Linked DNA regions of Homo sapiens: region 2 is linked to region 1. A link means that fine-mapping ties the variant in region 1 to the expression of a gene that starts in the linked region. Tissue or cell type: lung. Region 1 holds a variant in brackets; the other region holds the start of a gene. All regions are shown on one strand. Distances are between the middles of the regions.

What was found. PIP is the estimated chance that this variant, and not a neighbour inherited with it, causes the effect.
Region 2: it holds the start of FAXC, and the variant in region 1 is fine-mapped to the expression of FAXC in lung (TOPMed, PIP 0.95).

What each region holds. Positions count from the first base shown.
Region 1 is chr6:99,310,966-99,319,146 of GRCh38, forward strand. The region is part of intron 4 of FAXC (failed axon connections homolog, metaxin like GST domain containing); the gene reads right to left. Among named protein-coding and RNA genes, the nearest start is that of FAXC, 35 kb to the right of the region's middle. The variant CCTCTATATGACTGTAT/C (reference allele first, on the strand shown) is at 4,928.
Region 2 is chr6:99,345,637-99,353,817 of GRCh38, forward strand. FAXC (failed axon connections homolog, metaxin like GST domain containing) reads right to left here and starts at 4,038. Exons shown (of 6, transcript NM_032511.4): 1 at 3,471-4,038. The coding sequence starts at 3,736. RefSeq lists enhancers at 420-920, 921-1,421, 2,312-2,876 and silencers at 4,068-4,127, 4,198-4,247, 4,308-4,387.

The sequences.
Region 1 (8,181 bases):
TATTAAAACAGCCTATCCCAAAGCTTTCTTAAAAACAAAAACAATTTTGCTACTGTCCAAGTAAAAAGAGAAAAAAATTTTAAAAGAAGTGGAAGATTCATTGTTCAAAGCATAGATTTAGTAACAATGGATGTAGAGTAGTGCTGTAAACACGAATGCTTTAAAGCACTGAGACTTCAGCAGGGGTGAGTAGCAGCCTAAACATAAATCACAACCCAACAGAGCAAACAGAATTCGAGACAACCAATCTCTACTTTGGCCTCTGCCTTGTTTCATGACTTATAAAATGACTCTACTCTTCTCCCCAGAGAGTGAACATAAAATCATGAAGTCAATCACGGTGGCTCACACCTTTAATCCCAACACTTTGGGAGGCCGAGGTGGGTGGATCACGAGGTCAGGAGTTCGAGACCAGCCTGGCCAAGATGGTAAAACCCCATCTCTACTAAAAATACAAAAATTAGCCAGGCACGGTGGTGGGCACCTGTAATCCCAGCTACTCGGGAGGCTGAGGCAGGAGAATTGCTTGAACTTGGGAGGTGGAGGTTGCAGTAAGCCAAGATTGTGCCACTGCACTCTAGCCTGGGCAATAGAGCAAGACTCCGTCTCAAAAATAAATAAATAAATACATACATACATACATAAATAAAATCATGAAACCATTAGAACTAGAAAGACCTCCCATTTCTAAACATCTCACCATCTGTAAAAAAGACCCCTCCTCAGCTATCATGACAGTGGTCATCCAACCTCATCTGGAGAATAGCAGCTCAGGCCACACCACAAGTCCTCCCAATTGTGGACAGCTCTGTCTTAAAATTCTGCCTTACCCTGAGTTGAAAGCTATTATTTCTCCAAATATACATCTCACCTTCCTCTCTGTCTCTTCTCCCCTCCCTCTTATGCCTGTCATCTACAGTGACAACTAAGTCATTAGCCACTTTTAAGTATTTGAAAAAAGTTAGTATATTACCTGATAGCTTTACTTCTCCATACTATCCATGCCCAGTATCCTCAAATTCCTCACATGAAATTTTTTCCCCACTAACTACTCCTGACCAGCCTCCTCTGGAAACACACTAGTTTGGCCATTTTTCTTTTAAAAGCACAATCCCAAAACTGCTCCTTACACTCTTGTTCAATAAATATCTGCTGGATGCCTCATGTGTTCCAGGCACTCAGTTGGGCTCTCAAGACAAAGGAGGAATCTGCCAGGCCTGGCACAGAGTCCAGCTGAGGAAACACTCAAACCAAACCATTAGAAGAGGGTGCAAGGTGAGCTCTGAAAAAGAAAGCACCAGCTGCCTGGGAGCACGGAACAGGTTTGCTGGGAACACTCTGGGAGACAGGTCCAGCCTCGGTCCACTGAACTCCAACCTGGTGACACCAATGCACACTGTTCAGCTCTTCAGAGCATTCTCTGCAGTAGTGATCATTTCTTTAGGTAGTCCTCATTAGAGGACTAATGAAAGGGTATCACTCATTCATAGAGAGACATGCAGATTATTCACAAATGATCTACAAGTGGGTGTCTGAAGATACACCAACTTATACATGTTGTGTACCCGTTAAACCCTCAGACTCCCAGCTGAAGAAAGGGAAAGTTGACAACATAAGGGAGAAGAGGGTAGGGAAAGTGAGAGCAAGCGCCTACAGCAGCTTAAGTTTCCAGCTACTATCTCAAACAAAAATCAGAGACTCCAGACCAAAAAGCCATACTATTAATAACTGTAAGGTTGCAATATTTTAGTATTGAATTCTCCTTCTAGTTAAATCTTTCTAATATTTTCCTAGGAAAAAAATCCTGAAGGTTGAATTACTTAATAAGTAAATGTTAGAAATATGATATTTTATCTTTTGAAACTACTAAAACTACATACTAATTTTTACTCCTACCACAAGAATATGTCAATGCCTCTCCCATACCTCTGCTGATACTCCTTCATATTATTTAAAAAACAAAACAAAAACAAAATATGCCAATTTGATTGACAGAGAAGTGCCTCATTTTTTAGCTTGCATTTCTCTGATATTAAAGAGGTTGAGGCCAGGTGCAGTGGCTTACGTCTACAATCCCAGCACGTTGTGGGGCCAAGGCAGGCGGACCACTTGAGCACAGGAATTCAAGACCAGCCTGGGCAACATGGCAAAACCTCATCGCTACAAAAAATACAAAAATTAGCTGGGTGTGGTGGCACACGCCTGTGGTCCCAGCTCCTCGGGACGATGAGGCAGAAGGATCGCTTGAGCCCAGGAGATCAAGGCTTCAGTGACCTATGATTGTGCCACTGCACTACAGCCTGGGCAACAGAGTGAGACCTTGTCTCAACAAAAATAAGTAAACAAATAAAGAGGTTGAACATTTTTAATATATTTATTCATCATTTGTATTGTTTTTGTAAATTACCTCTTTATATGTCTTCTGACCAATTTTCCCCCTTAAGTATTCACTTTTCTTATTTATTTATAAAAGCTCTTCAAATGTTAATATTCTTTTGTCACATGTTGCAAACATTTTTCCAGCTTACCCTTTCAACTTTAAATATGGCAATTTTTTTATATACAGGAGGTTGGTTTTCTTTTTTCTCATGTCATCAAGCAATTCAACTTTTCTTTTATAGTTTCACCCTATGGCACCATGTTTAGAAAAACTTTCCTAAGCTCAACATTCTATAAGTTTCCCATATTTTATTCTGGCACCTTTATGGTTTTATGTTTATGGTTTTATGTTTCACATTTAAATGCTTGATTCATTTGGAATTTATTCTGACATGAAGTCAGAATTGAACTTATGTTGTTCCAAATGGTTAGCCACCTGTCCTGGCACCATTTATTGAATGAATTTGTCTTTCCTCCACTGATCACGGCTGCCTTTATCATATACTGCATCTCTACTCATGTGTCTGTCTCATAGGGACCTCAAACTCAGCATACCCACACCTGAAATTCATGATCTTCCCCTCTTCTCCAGTGTCCTCCAACTCTGTGAATGGCTACCTCATCAATAATGTTTATTTGTCCTTTGTTTTTTGGTTCTTTTCAGAAATGAGGTTTTGCTATGTTGCTCAGGCTGGGGTGCAGTGGCTATTCACAGTTGTAATCACAGTTCTCTGCAGCCTTCAACTCCTGGCCTCAAGCGATTCCCATTGCCTCAGCCTCCTGAGTACCCAGAACTATAGACACGTGCCCCCACACCCAGCCATCCACTAAGTTTTAATGTCCAGAACCTGATTATGCCTGACCCCGCCCCTCTCCATCACCACAACCCTCCCCCTCTACACATACACATCAAATCACTAAACTTTCTCAGTTCTGTCTCTAAAACATAGTTCTCATTCATAACTTTCTGCCCAACTCTATCACCATGCCTATAATCCAAGCACCATCTTATCTTTCCTGGACCCTGTCTCTACAAAAAATACAAAATACAAAACCCCGTCTCTACAAAAAATACAAAAATTAGCTGGGCGTGGTAGCACACGCCTGTGGTCCCAGCTACTCAGGACAATGAGGCAGAAGGATCACTTGAGCCCAGGAGATCAAGGCTTCAGTGAGCTATGATTGTGTCACTGCACTACAGCCTGGGCAACAGCTTCTTCCCTGGGCCACCAAACCTACTCTTGGCCCCTCCAGCACATGAAACGGATATAGGATCACACCATGTCCCAACTTTCAACCTCTGCTGGTTTCCACTGCTCTTGGGAAAAAGTCCAGATTTATTTATGTTACACATAAGACTGTGAGCTCAGCCCCTGCCACCACTGCCTCATGCCACTCCTGCTCTCACACAATTTCCAGACACACTAGCCACCTTTTCATTCCTTGAAAGCACCCAGCTGCTGTTCATCTCAGGCCGTTTACATATGATGTTCCTTCTCTAGTCCACGCTATTCTACTCACTGTCCCACCCTTGTTGCCCACACCTACATACATGCCTGCCTTACTTGGGCTTATCTTTCAGAATGCTGCTTAAATATGACCTCCTTGGCCAGGCGCAGTGCCTCACACCTGTAATCCCGGCACCCTGGGAAGCCGAGGCAGGTGGATCACCTGAGGTCAGGAGTTCAAGACCAGCCTGGCCAACATGGTGAAAGACCATCTCTAATAAAAATACAAAAATTAGCCAGGTGTGGTGCCGCACACCTGTAATTTCAGCTACTTGAGGGCTGAGGTAAGAGAATCACTTGAACTTGGGAGGCGGAGACTACAGTGAGCTGAGAGCACACTACTGCACTCCAGCCTGGGCAACTGAGCAACACTCCATCTTAAAAAAAAAAAAAAAAAAAAAAAAAAAAAACCAGTAAATGTCACCTCCTTGAAGAAGGCTTCCAGAACCACCTCTTCATCACTACCACCACCATGTTCATTTCCCCTGCAAAAAAATTCCTCACTGCACTTTGCACTTTACAGTGGCACCCCTCACAAGTGCTGAGATTTTATAAATGTTTACCTGCAATATCTCCCTCAGGTGGCAGCTCTGGTAGCTCAGGGCTGTGCCCAATGTGTTCACCACCAACCCTTAAGCCCCTCACAAAAAGCCTGGCACACTGTTCAAGGCATATGTGTTTAACCACACAGTCCTAAGTCAATGGAATTACCCTTCTGCCTGAATTCTAATTATTACAAGTATACTCTCCTCCTAAGGTGTCTAACAACAGAAAAGTGGCTGAAAATAACATCGCAGTTTCCACTTGCACAGCCCATTACTATTTCTGATCCTACTTACTCTTAAATACATTTACAAATTTAAATTTTTTGCTCAGAAAGCACTCCTAAGATCCACAGATCCTGGAGTCCATGCTTGGCTATCTGCTAACAGCATTCTGACATTCATTCATTCTTTTATTCACTCATCCAGCAGATATTTATTGACCACCACTGGTCCACAGCTGAGCCTCACAACTGAAACTGTATTTTTCTTCTTCTC[CCTCTATATGACTGTAT/C]CTCCCAAACCAACTCTATTTACCAATTATTCATCTACTTTTCCCATGAGATAGCTGCTGTATCACCACCCAGGATCTATACAAATCCAATTAAAAGCAAACAAACATTAGGTTTTAGTAATCTGTGCTGCCTCATCATGATCAGTATCATCAAATCCAGCCACCTAGCACCCTGTACCCCACCCTGAGCTTTAAGGGGTCAGTAGAGAGATCAAGAGAAGAAACTCAGGCCCAGCTTTAACCCACTCGCCCCCCCCCACCCACAAGGGGTTGCCCCCTTAACATTCCTGAATAGCTCTGAGCTCTGGGAAGAAAGCTGCTTTCCAGAAGCATCAAAATGCAATCTTGTGTTGGTGCTCGGAGAAGCTTGAGAGCCACAGGATAAGGTGTATAAAACCACAGAAAGGGTTTGACAACAACCCAAGGCACACTCCCCAGAGGGTAGCTCTTCTACATGTGTTAACCTACTCATCCCCCTCCCCCTGCCTATTTCCTACAAGAGTCCAGCCTTGTCTTTGGATTCTGAGCTCACTGAAGCCAGTTCTCTCTTTCTCAGCATGCCAGAGCTATAAGAGGGCCGCAATGTGGCACCTGCCTTTCCAAGGTTTTTGACCTACACTGCAAGGCATAATTGCACCCATATTTTCTTTACCTTTCCCTCAACACATGCCTGTCTCTGAGTTTCCCTGACTCTGCTATAGTCATCTGCTCCCTGAAGAGCATCAACACTGCTTCATGGTATAGGCTTCCCAATCTGGAGGGATGGAACCCCAAAGGCATTTCTGGGTAAGAGCAACCTACAGATTTTCTATGACTAATCACAAAAGCTTAACCCTGCTGTTCTCTGAGAATATTTTCACCTTCCATGAACTAAGTGATCACCCAAATAGCTATATACTTGGAAAACAAAGTTGCTTGATTGTTTTATTCTACAGCAAAATTCAATCATTCTGAAAAGCAAAACCACACTGTCATTATACATGCTTAGGAAGGTGACATGAAGCAGCAAATGATTCATTTTTACTGCCTTTGAAGGGACGCACTACTTTGCAACTCCCTACTCTTTATTACATAGTCAAGGTCACACTGATGTTTACTAAAATAACTAAAAAGTCTGGTTCTTAAAAATGTGTTGATCCAATGTCAACAAAGACTGAAAAATAATGACTCCGCAAGCCATTTTCTGACTCAATAAAATGCTGTAGCCTGGAAAAAAAGAAAAGTATATTACATTTTTTATTAATCAAGTGAAGTTTGCTGGAAATCAGATTTTTTTTTTCACTTCCACTTACAAATTCCATTTACCACTTCGCTCTTTCAGAAGCAGCCCCCAAAAAGAGATCATTTCTCCTTAAGCATTTCATCCTAGAGGCTGGGCAGCAAGCCTCCCGATGAAGGGCACAGCTTCAACTCACAAGGCTCAGGATCTCTAAATCAGTGATAATGCTCCACATTTAAATCTGTACTCTGCTTCCAGGGGCAACCTAATCAAACGTACTTAAAAATTACTTTGAAGACCACATTTTAACTTGCCAGTGGAAGTCGTGGCAATTTTAGAAAATGTTCTAAAGAAATCATCCTGACATAACTTAACTTCTGTATTTAAAGCACAATTCTTAAGAAACCAAGGTAGTAGTCAGGTCAGAAAACAGCAGGGGCCTTAGGTCTGACAGCCTGGATTTGAGTCTGGGCTTCACTTGTTAGTGGTTGTGTGATTGTTGGCAAGTCATTCAACCTTTCTGTGCCTCGTTTTTCTTATCTGTCAAATGGGTGGTGTTCCTTTCACTTTGTACTAGAGTCTATCTTCCATTCATATTTTGTATCTCATGGCCACAGCTGGGGATCTCTGTGTTAACATGGGACACAACTATACAATTCTTATTTTCATTGTCTTATTTTGCATCCACTTCAAGGTCATACCTGTAATCTATGTAGGCCTGATAACAGAAATACTAAAAAGGCAAAAGACAAAGCAGGGTTTTGTCTGATAAATCTTCTATCAGTTTTCCTGGCACCAAGGGTGATACACAGCACACAGAATCACATGGTATAGAATATTTAAAAATAGGGCTGGGCGCGGTGGCTCACGCCTGTAATCCCAGCACTTTGGGAGGCCGAGGCGGGTGGATCACGAGGTCAGGAAATCGAGACCATCCTGGCTAACACGGTGAAAGCCCGTCTCTACTAAAAATACAAAAAAATTAGCTGGGCATGGTGGTGGGCGCCTTTAGTCCCAGCTACTCGGGAGGCTGAGGCAGGAGAATGGCGTGAACCCGGGAGGCGGAGCTTGCAGTGAGCCAAGACGGCGCCACTGCACTCCAGCCTGGGCGACAGAGCAAGACTCCGTCTCAAACACACACACACACACACACACACACACACACACACACACACACACAAAATAGAAGAAATGGAAAATATATATGTACAAATATGTATATATAGATGATTCAAAATTATGCATAAAAATATTGGAAACATATGCACCAAAATGGTAACAGTTGTTAGCAATGGGTTAGAAGATTACAGCAACAAGAAGTGAGAGAGGGATGGGAAAATATATTTTTTAAAAATTGCAGTGACTTATTTTCCTTCCTTATGCTTTTCTGAGCCTTCCCAAATTTCTACAATAAATTCTAAAATCAGAAAAATGATTTTTGTTATAAAGACATTTTTCCCAGAAAACAATGTTTCCAATGAAGTTGTGTTACATACAAAATCAGTGACAGTGATTATGAGAATAACTATTTATTTAGCACTTCCTATGGGTCAGGCCCTGCAGTAAGTACTTTACAGAAAGCATTTCATTTAGTCCCCACCCACTGTGATGTAGGTATTGTTCTGAACCTCATTTTGCAAATGAACAACTCAAGTTATTTGTGTGAAATCAAAGAGCTGGTAAGCGGTGATGCCCCAGATGTGAACCCGGGATCTGACTCCAGGATTCCCACACCCATATGCCAGCCACTAGGCTTCCTGCCTCTAGCCACGCTGGTTCCCAAAAACCTCACCTCTCTGTTTTTGATTTTCATGTCTTCTTTGCTCTTTATTGACTCTCATTCTTTTTTGGGAGTGTTCAGAAATAAACAGTGTATGTATTTCTGGCATGTGGAGGCATCAGGCAACCATTACACATAGTTATCTGCTATGAACACACACACCTTCCCCAAGGGGGACATAAGAACATGAGGATTAAAAAGCAAACCCGGCCGGGCGCGGTGGCTCACGCCTGTAATCC
Region 2 (8,181 bases), 35 kb after region 1:
ATACCACAGATGAACATGCCTCTGTATACAGCTGATGATTTGTTAGTTTGCAGAGATCAGATGTTGATTCGCCAACTAAATGCTCTAGAAGAGGCTGAGCCCGTGTGTCAAAAGTGCAAATAAGCACTGGTAATGAAGTTAGTACTTAGTCATTCAATTTACAAACAAAAATTTCCAAAGCCTGATTGAATTTAAGATAGCTGCCAAGCTATCTCCACTCAGGGAAAACAAAGTAGTGTGTTGGAACAATATTTATTTTAAAATATGGTGCTAAAAAACATGGATAAAACCCCAAAAACCTACTTCAGTTATATTCATTAATTAAACTTCCTAAGTAATTCTCACCTGTCAACTTTACTCTTCCACTCTAGAGACACAGTCATAGATTAAGGTTATGTCTATGCAGCAGAAAATCCAAGTAGGCTGGGGAAGAGTTTGCAATAGCCAGAAACTCAGGGTAGTCATTTTAAGGTGTATTTTCTATCTTACATATTTCAGATTTTGTTTTGTTTTCTGCCTAAATTATAAAGACTATTGAAACCTAGATTTCACCTTAAGTGGAGGTAGTTATCATGTAACCTCTAAAGCCTTGGTCTTTGACCTTCCTGCCTGGTTTTTTTCCCTTTGCCCCTCCACTCCTCTTCCCCTAGACGCTGCAAGAAAGGCACCTGATACAGGTCTGTCTTCCCTGAGCAATGCTTCAGTTCTCCACATTTCTCTTCCTTCCTCTTCCTCCAACAAAACGGATTTCAAAGTAGGTACTTTTTTTGAGACGGAGTCTCGCTCTGTCGCCAGGCTGGAGTGCAGTGGCACCATCTCGGCTCACTGCAACCTCCGCCTCCTGGGTTCAAGCGATTCTCCTGCCTCAGCTCCCCGAGTAGCTATAGGACTACAGGCGCGTGCCACCACGCCAGGCTAATTTTTGTGGGGTTTTTTTGTTTGTTTTTTAGTAGACGGGGTTTCACAATGTTGGCCAGATGGTCTCGATCTCTTGACCTCGTGATCCGCCCGCGTCAGCCTCCCAAAGTGCTGGGATTACAGGCGTAAGCTGCCGCGCGCCGGGCCAAAGTAGGTACTTTCTAAGAGGCAGTGGTTAAAAACTGCAGGCTCTGATTTGAATCTAGATCCTACTACTCTTACTGTGTGATCTTGGGCAAGCTGCTTAACCTCCCTGAGCTGCAATTTCCTTATCTATGAAATGAACAAACAACAGTTGTGAGGAATAAATGCAGTCACACATGCAAAGCCCATCCTACTAAGTATTCAGAAATAGCCCTTTTTTATTGTTTGCATTACTTCAGAGCTTTCTAATTCAACTCAAACATTTGTCCAGAAACAAAACTGGCCAAGTATGGTGGCTCACACCTATAAACCCAACACTTTGGGAGGCCAAGGAGGGAGGATTTCTTGAGGCCAGGAGTTTGAGACAAGCCTGGGCAACATAGTGAGACCCCATCTCCACAAAAAAGTTAAAAAAAAAATTAGCCAAGTGCAATGGTTCATGCCTGTAATCCCAGCAACTCAGCAGACTGAGGCCAGAGGATCGCTTGATCCCAGGAGTTCAAGAGCAGCCTGGCCAACACGGTGAAACCCTATCTCTACTAAAAATACAAAAATTATCCAGACGCGGTGGTGCACGCCTGTAATCCCAGCTACTCAGGAGGCTGAGCCAGGAGAATCATTTGAACCAGGGAGGTGGAGGTTGCAATGAGCTGAGATCGAGCCACTGCACTCCAACATGGGCGACAAAGCGAGACTCAGTCTCAAAAGAAAAAAAAAAAAAAAGGAAGAAAAAGTGTGAATCAACCTAGGATTAAACTCCTTAGTCCAAATAAGCATCCAGTGCTGAGGTATATAGTCCCCTAAATGAGTTAGTAGCTATCTGTGGGCAGAGAGCTCTCCAGTCTCCAGTGACAACACCTGCCAGGGCAGGGCCTACTCCGGAGTGGCAGCTGAGCTCCACACTGTTTCTGCAAGGTCATTTAAGCTTTGTTTTAAACTTGGTCCTGTGAAGCCTTCACTCCCTCCACTGCTGAGAAGCCTCATGGTTTGGGATCTCCTCAAAGGCTTTAGACTAGAATACAACTGAGAAACAACTGGGTTACCATTTAAATTACTGCCCAAATGTTTTAGTTCTTTAGGTAGCTTGAAATCTAACTTGAAATACAGTTCTAAAACTAGCACAATTAACAAATAATCTAGAGAGATAATTCTCTTTAAATTTTTTTGTTTGGTTCAGCTAGATTCAAGGCAATGTGTTGAGAGAATTAAATGTGCAACAAGCTTAAAATAAACTTCCTCAAATATGGCTAAATAATATGAAAACCAATACATTTCTCCAAACCTAAATGATTTCCCACCCTTTCAGAGATGGGAACTATTCAAAATATGTACGTTAGGCCAAATGCCTACATTAGGCCATCACAATAATCTCCTGGGATCCCTGCAGGCTAGTACAGGTCACCTATCACTGTCTTTGTTTATAACCTATTGTGTAGGATTCCTCCACTGGAATAAGGCAGTGTGGACACATTTCTCTCACTTTAGAAAATACTGGCAAAGAGACATTCTGAGCTATTGAAAACTGGGCTTCTGGTAATCTTCCAGTGACGGAAGGCTCAAATGCATGGAAATTTTAACCATTAATTGATGTATCAATTAGCCAAACGACTGTCTCAGTGCCCTGTGGTATTACTCTACCCAAACAAAAATCTCGTCCCGGCTGGATGTACCAACAGCAGGGGCCTCCATTTTCTGGTATTTCCAACTCAATCTTGTAAACATTCTGCGGCAGCGGATGCAACTGTTTACGGCACTGGGCGACTCCGTGTTGTGCCCAACACACCCATGTGCTAGCCTGTCCTACTGCTCACACAACAATGACATCTAAGCCTGAAGATGGTGCTTGGCGTTCAATACCAGATAAGCAGAGAACCAGGTTAAGGCTGCATCAAAGCTGCCCACCACTACACTTGGTCATGCATCTTTAACAGGGACCCGCAGGTTTCTGGAGCTTTTGCAATTTTTCAGTCTTTTGATGTTGACATTTAGGGAAGAACTAACCTTTAGGTAAAAGATAAGGTTAGCAGTTAATATTCCAGCATTATTACTTATAAACAAGGCATTTCATAAAAGTGTAACCTATTTCTGCAGGGCCCAATTCTATTGTTGCAAACACACTGCACTTAGATCCTCCTAAGGCCATTTCTTAATAGATAACGACAAGTGACCCAGAGCATTTTGGGAGACAAATGTTTTTCCCTCCCAGCACCGGTTTAATTCTCCTTTCAACTCTAAACTGCCCCTCACGGCCAGGTGACCACAAATGCCTTTAGGGAAAGGTAATTGCAGGGCGCTTGGGCATCTGGGCAGCTTGACCGAGGGGCTGGCACGGGCCCCTCTCGCGCCAGCCCTGCCCTAGCCAGGTGCCCCTCTCTGCGCCCCTGTGCGGGGCCCTCTCTCCGGCTCACCTAATGACCAGGAGTTCGTGGAGCAGATACGCAGCTGCGGCCAGCAAAGCTCCCCCGGTCAAGTAAAGGGTTTTCTTCCACCAGGGATCGGAGCCCAGCCCTGCCATGATCCCACCGTAATCCTGCAAAGGGAAAGCGATGATGTCCCCATAAAAGGAGAAGGGCTCCTCGGACCCGGCCCACCAGCCGAAGAAGGAGATGCTCTGGTTCCAGCTCAGATCCACCACGCACGGCCTGGACGAAGCAAAGCCAACCCCCCAGTGCATGCTGCGCGGCTGGCTCCGGGCGCCCCTCCCAGGGCCCGCGCCGCCCGCATGGGAAGGGGCCGGCGCGGCCCGGCGCGGGCTCAGAGGCGCGCGGAGGGCGCGGGCGGCGCGGGCGGCGGCGACTGAGGAGGCGGCGGCGACTGAGGAGGCGGCGGCAGAGGAGGAGGAGGAGGAAGGGCACTGGCCGCGGACGGCGGGCCTGGCCGGCGGGGCCCCAGAGCCCTGGGCGGCAGCAGCGGCCGCCGGCTCCCCCCGCAGCTGCCTCTCCGCCCCGCTCTTTGTGTCGGCGCCTGGAGAAGGCCGCGTGATGTCATTGCTCCCCGGGGCAGGGAAACAGAGGCGGGATAAAGTCACCTACCCCGCGCCCTGCCCCCTCCCCGCATCTCCGCGGTCCGGCCGCCTCCGCCGGGGCCGGATCTGCAGGGCTGAGGCGCGCCGGGCAGGCTCCGCGCCTCCGGGCGGCACGCCCAAAAACCGCTCGCCGCGCGCGGGCAAGGGCGGCGGAGGTGCCTGGAAATGCGGCCCCACCGCGAGGAAGCTGCAGTCGGGGCCCGGATCCCGGTCCTCCCCTACCCCGGCCGGCCCTCCGCCTGCGCTCCAGCCCCTCCCGCGGGCCCCAGAGTAGGGAACGCGCAGGACTCACCTGGGGCGGCGCGGAGCTGCGGGCAGGAGACGCCACCAGGCGGGGGCTGGGAGCGTGGGCCAGGATTAAAGTCGGGAATCAGATTGTTCTGGCCATCAGGAAAGCGCTGCGTATTTGCATAATGTATAAAAACACTCTTATTACATTACACAATTACCTCGGGCTTGACCAGGTGTTCGCAGAGACGAGATGTCTGGTTTGGCAAATAACAAAATACTCTACCTAGAGAGATTTCTCTGACAAACCCAGTTCAAGTCTTTCCTCTTTGAAGTCACTATCAGGGAACTCGCTGATACAGGGTTTCGGTTGGGGGACGGGGGTCCCTCTTTTGTTTTAGAAAATCTGTCTAACAACTGTGTGTGTGTTCAGTGTATTTTTTTCCTTTAACTTCATTTATTAAAGTTCATAAGTACAAAGAATAGAAGCTTGTAATATATGCACAGATTTTAACAAGAGCATGGATAGTTTTAAATTGTTTGGAAGAACTGAAAAAGGATTCGGGCCGTGGAGGTTCATCACTCTCAAGGTGGAAGGATGGGTAAAAGAAACCTCCAGGCTCTTGCCTATGGAGCAGAGATTGAGGCGCAAAAGGACTCCCCCTTTTTTTCCTCTCCTGACACACCCGCCCCTTAGAACAGGCAAGGAGTGTGGTCGTCTTGTTAATAAATAATAAATATGGACGTGTCGCCTCAACGAGACGGGGGGAGGGGCTAGTCAGCTGATGCCTAGGCACCAGCATGTGAGACTCCCCAAACACTCCTGGGAAAATGTGACCTCCCAGGAAGAAGTAATGTGTGTGGTTCTAAGTGAGGCTCCCATAAGTAGGTTGCAAGGAGTGAAACCCAACGGCCTCCTGGGGTGACTGAGGTGGTCACCAGCCGGTCTTTCAAGGAGAGAGGCCAGAAGGCTGCCTGGCCTTGTCGGCAAGAAGCAGAGTAGTTAAGTCTGGGACCAAAGCTGCAGTGCTCTGGAAGAGGGAACAAGGAGGGCTGGCACCAGGGATTCTCCATGCTCCTTCTGTGCCCTTCCCACAGAGCACTCAGTCTTTGCTCTCAGTGAACACTGAGCCAATATTTAAAGAATATAAGTTTGATATTTGGGATCACATTATTTGCATATCTAGGTCTAGACATGGGGATGGGCATAAATTACCTTAAGTGGAAGAATATGGAAGGCAAAAGGGAGAGTCAATCCTGACAAACCTTATGCCCAAAACAAGTTAGAACCCAGAGGAAGTGTAGTATTTTTATCCCAGAAAGCCACTGACTACAATTCACTCTCACTCATAGTGACCTGCCCCACCCACTCATGCAGGCCAGGGGCCCACTGCTGCTTCCTGGTAGTGTCAGACAACTGTTGAGCATCATCTGGTCTCTGGTTCAAATATGGTTTACATTTTTAGAGACACTGCAGTGAACATCTTTAAGAAGCAGATGTGGGCTGGGCACAGGTGGCTCACACATGTAATCCCAACACTTTGGGAGGCCAAGGTGGGTGGATCACCTAAGGTCACGAGTTCGAGATCAGCCTGGCCAACATGGCGAAACCCCGTCTCTACTGAAAATACAAAAAATTAGCCGGGAGTGGTGACGAGCACCTGTAATTCCAGCTACTCGGAAGGCTAAGGCAGGAGAATTGCTTGAACCCAGGAGGCGGAGGTCTCAGTGAGGAGAGATTGTGCCATTGCACCCCAGCCTGGGTAACAAGAGCGAGACACCGTCTCAATAAAAATAAAAATAAAAATAAAATAAAATTCCACAAGAGAAACTAAAATGTCATCTTAATCTGATGCATCTTAAATTTTAACTTTTAGATCCATGGCATAGAAGAGAAAAGATGATTATTGTTAGGGCTGTATAAGATGAAAAGAGGAAGAGTAGACTGAGGAGACAACAAATCTGAGTTGGACAAATATTTGGTATCAGAATGTCAGAACAGGCCGGGCATGGTGGGGTGGCTCATGCCTGTAATCCCAGCACTTTGGGAGGTGGGCAGATCACTTGAGGTCAAGAGTTTGAGACCAGCCTGGCCAACATGGTGAAACTGTGTCTCTACTAAAAAAAAAATACAAAAATTAGCTAGGCATGGTGTCGAGCACCTGTAACCCCAGCTACCTGGGAGTCTGAGGCAGGAGAATCACTTGAACCTGGGAAGCAGAGGTCGCAGTGAGCTGAGATCGCGCCACTGCACTCTAGCCTGGGTGACAGAGTGAGACTCCATCTGAAATAAAAAAGAAGAACCTCAGAACAAACCTTTGGGGAGCAAGGAAAGCAGCTCTAGCTGTAAAGGCACCGACTGATGCAATCCTCAGCCAAATCTTCATCCAAAGACAGACTGAGTTTCAGAGGGAAAAGCTGCTCCACAAAGGGGTGCAAGCCAGCTGTAGAAAGATGGGAGACTCAGGCTCAGGGGCAAGGGACTCAGCCCCAGAGGAGTGGTGGTGGTGGGATAAACTCAGTAGAAAGGAACCAAACACAGCTTGGTTAACAAGAGTTGCTAAGGAGGCTGATTCTGCAAAGAATGGCTCCTCAGAATCCCTAGTGTAGAGCCAAGTCACAGGCTGAAGCCACAGCAGCTATGCAGGGCCTCCCTACTGAGGCTGAAGGTGCAGGAGCTGAGCATGTCTGCACCCCAGCTCTCCTCCTGAGGCTCCTATAGTTAGTGAGAAAATTTGAAGACTCTGGGCACTAGGCTAGGCATCTCTACTTCACCCCTTCTACCACCACCACCACTAATTTTGACAGCTTTGGTGCCGTACGCATGGACATTAGCTCCAAACTAGAGGCAATTTCTTTTTCTTTTTCAAGGACTTTTTGTTAACTAACTTTAATTGAGTTGTTATAAGACAAGAAAAAAGAAGGAACTAATATTGATTGAACACCTGTTTGTGTTGTATAGTGATTTTTTTTCCAGTAACAAGCTATGTTAGATAAGTATTGTCATTTCAATTTTACAACTGAAAGAAACTAAGGCCCAGAGGGGACAATTAACAAGTTCAATTCCCAGAGTGAGGTGATGATGGATCCAAGCATGTCTTACACCAGTGGCCCTGTGGGCGCTCCACCACCTCCATCAGCGGTGTCCAATCTTTTGGCTTCCCTGGGCCACATTAGAAGAACTGTCTTGGGCCACACCTAAACTACGCTAAGGACGGCTGATGAGCTTTAAAAAAAATCGCAAAAAATTCATAATGTTTTAAGAAGGTTTACAAATTTGTGTTGGGCCACATTCAAAGTCGTCCTGGGCCGCCAGGTTGGACAAGGTTTTGACCTACAAGGGTCTCACACCAAGAACAGTGAGTGCTGGAGCGCTGTCCATGGTATTCTTGCTTTACACTATTAGTCTGGGGCTCAGTTTTCAACTGTCTCAACTGAATGACTACAAAGCATCCAATGCCTGCAGGTTATACTGTCACCTGAAAAAGGTAGCTTCAGATAATTTATTATGCAGATATCGGCGTGCCCTGTGTCATGTGGGTCTACAGCCTCGCCAAGACAATTGGGTAAGGACAACTAAATCAGTGTTTCCCAAACCTTAAAGTACATATGTGTCACCTGGGGCTCTGTCATGACGATCAAACAAGAGACAATTAGATCAGAGGTAATTGAGAAGGTGGGTGGTGAGAAAAGTTTAGGATGTTTTGAGTGTGGGCCTCTCAAACATTACCGTGTATATGAGGATATTGTTAAAATGCAAAATTTGACTCAGTAGTTCTGGGGTGGGGCCTGAGAGTCTGCATTTCTAACAAGCTTCCAGGTGATACCAGACCACAGTTTGTGTAACAATTGTTTATACCACTGGC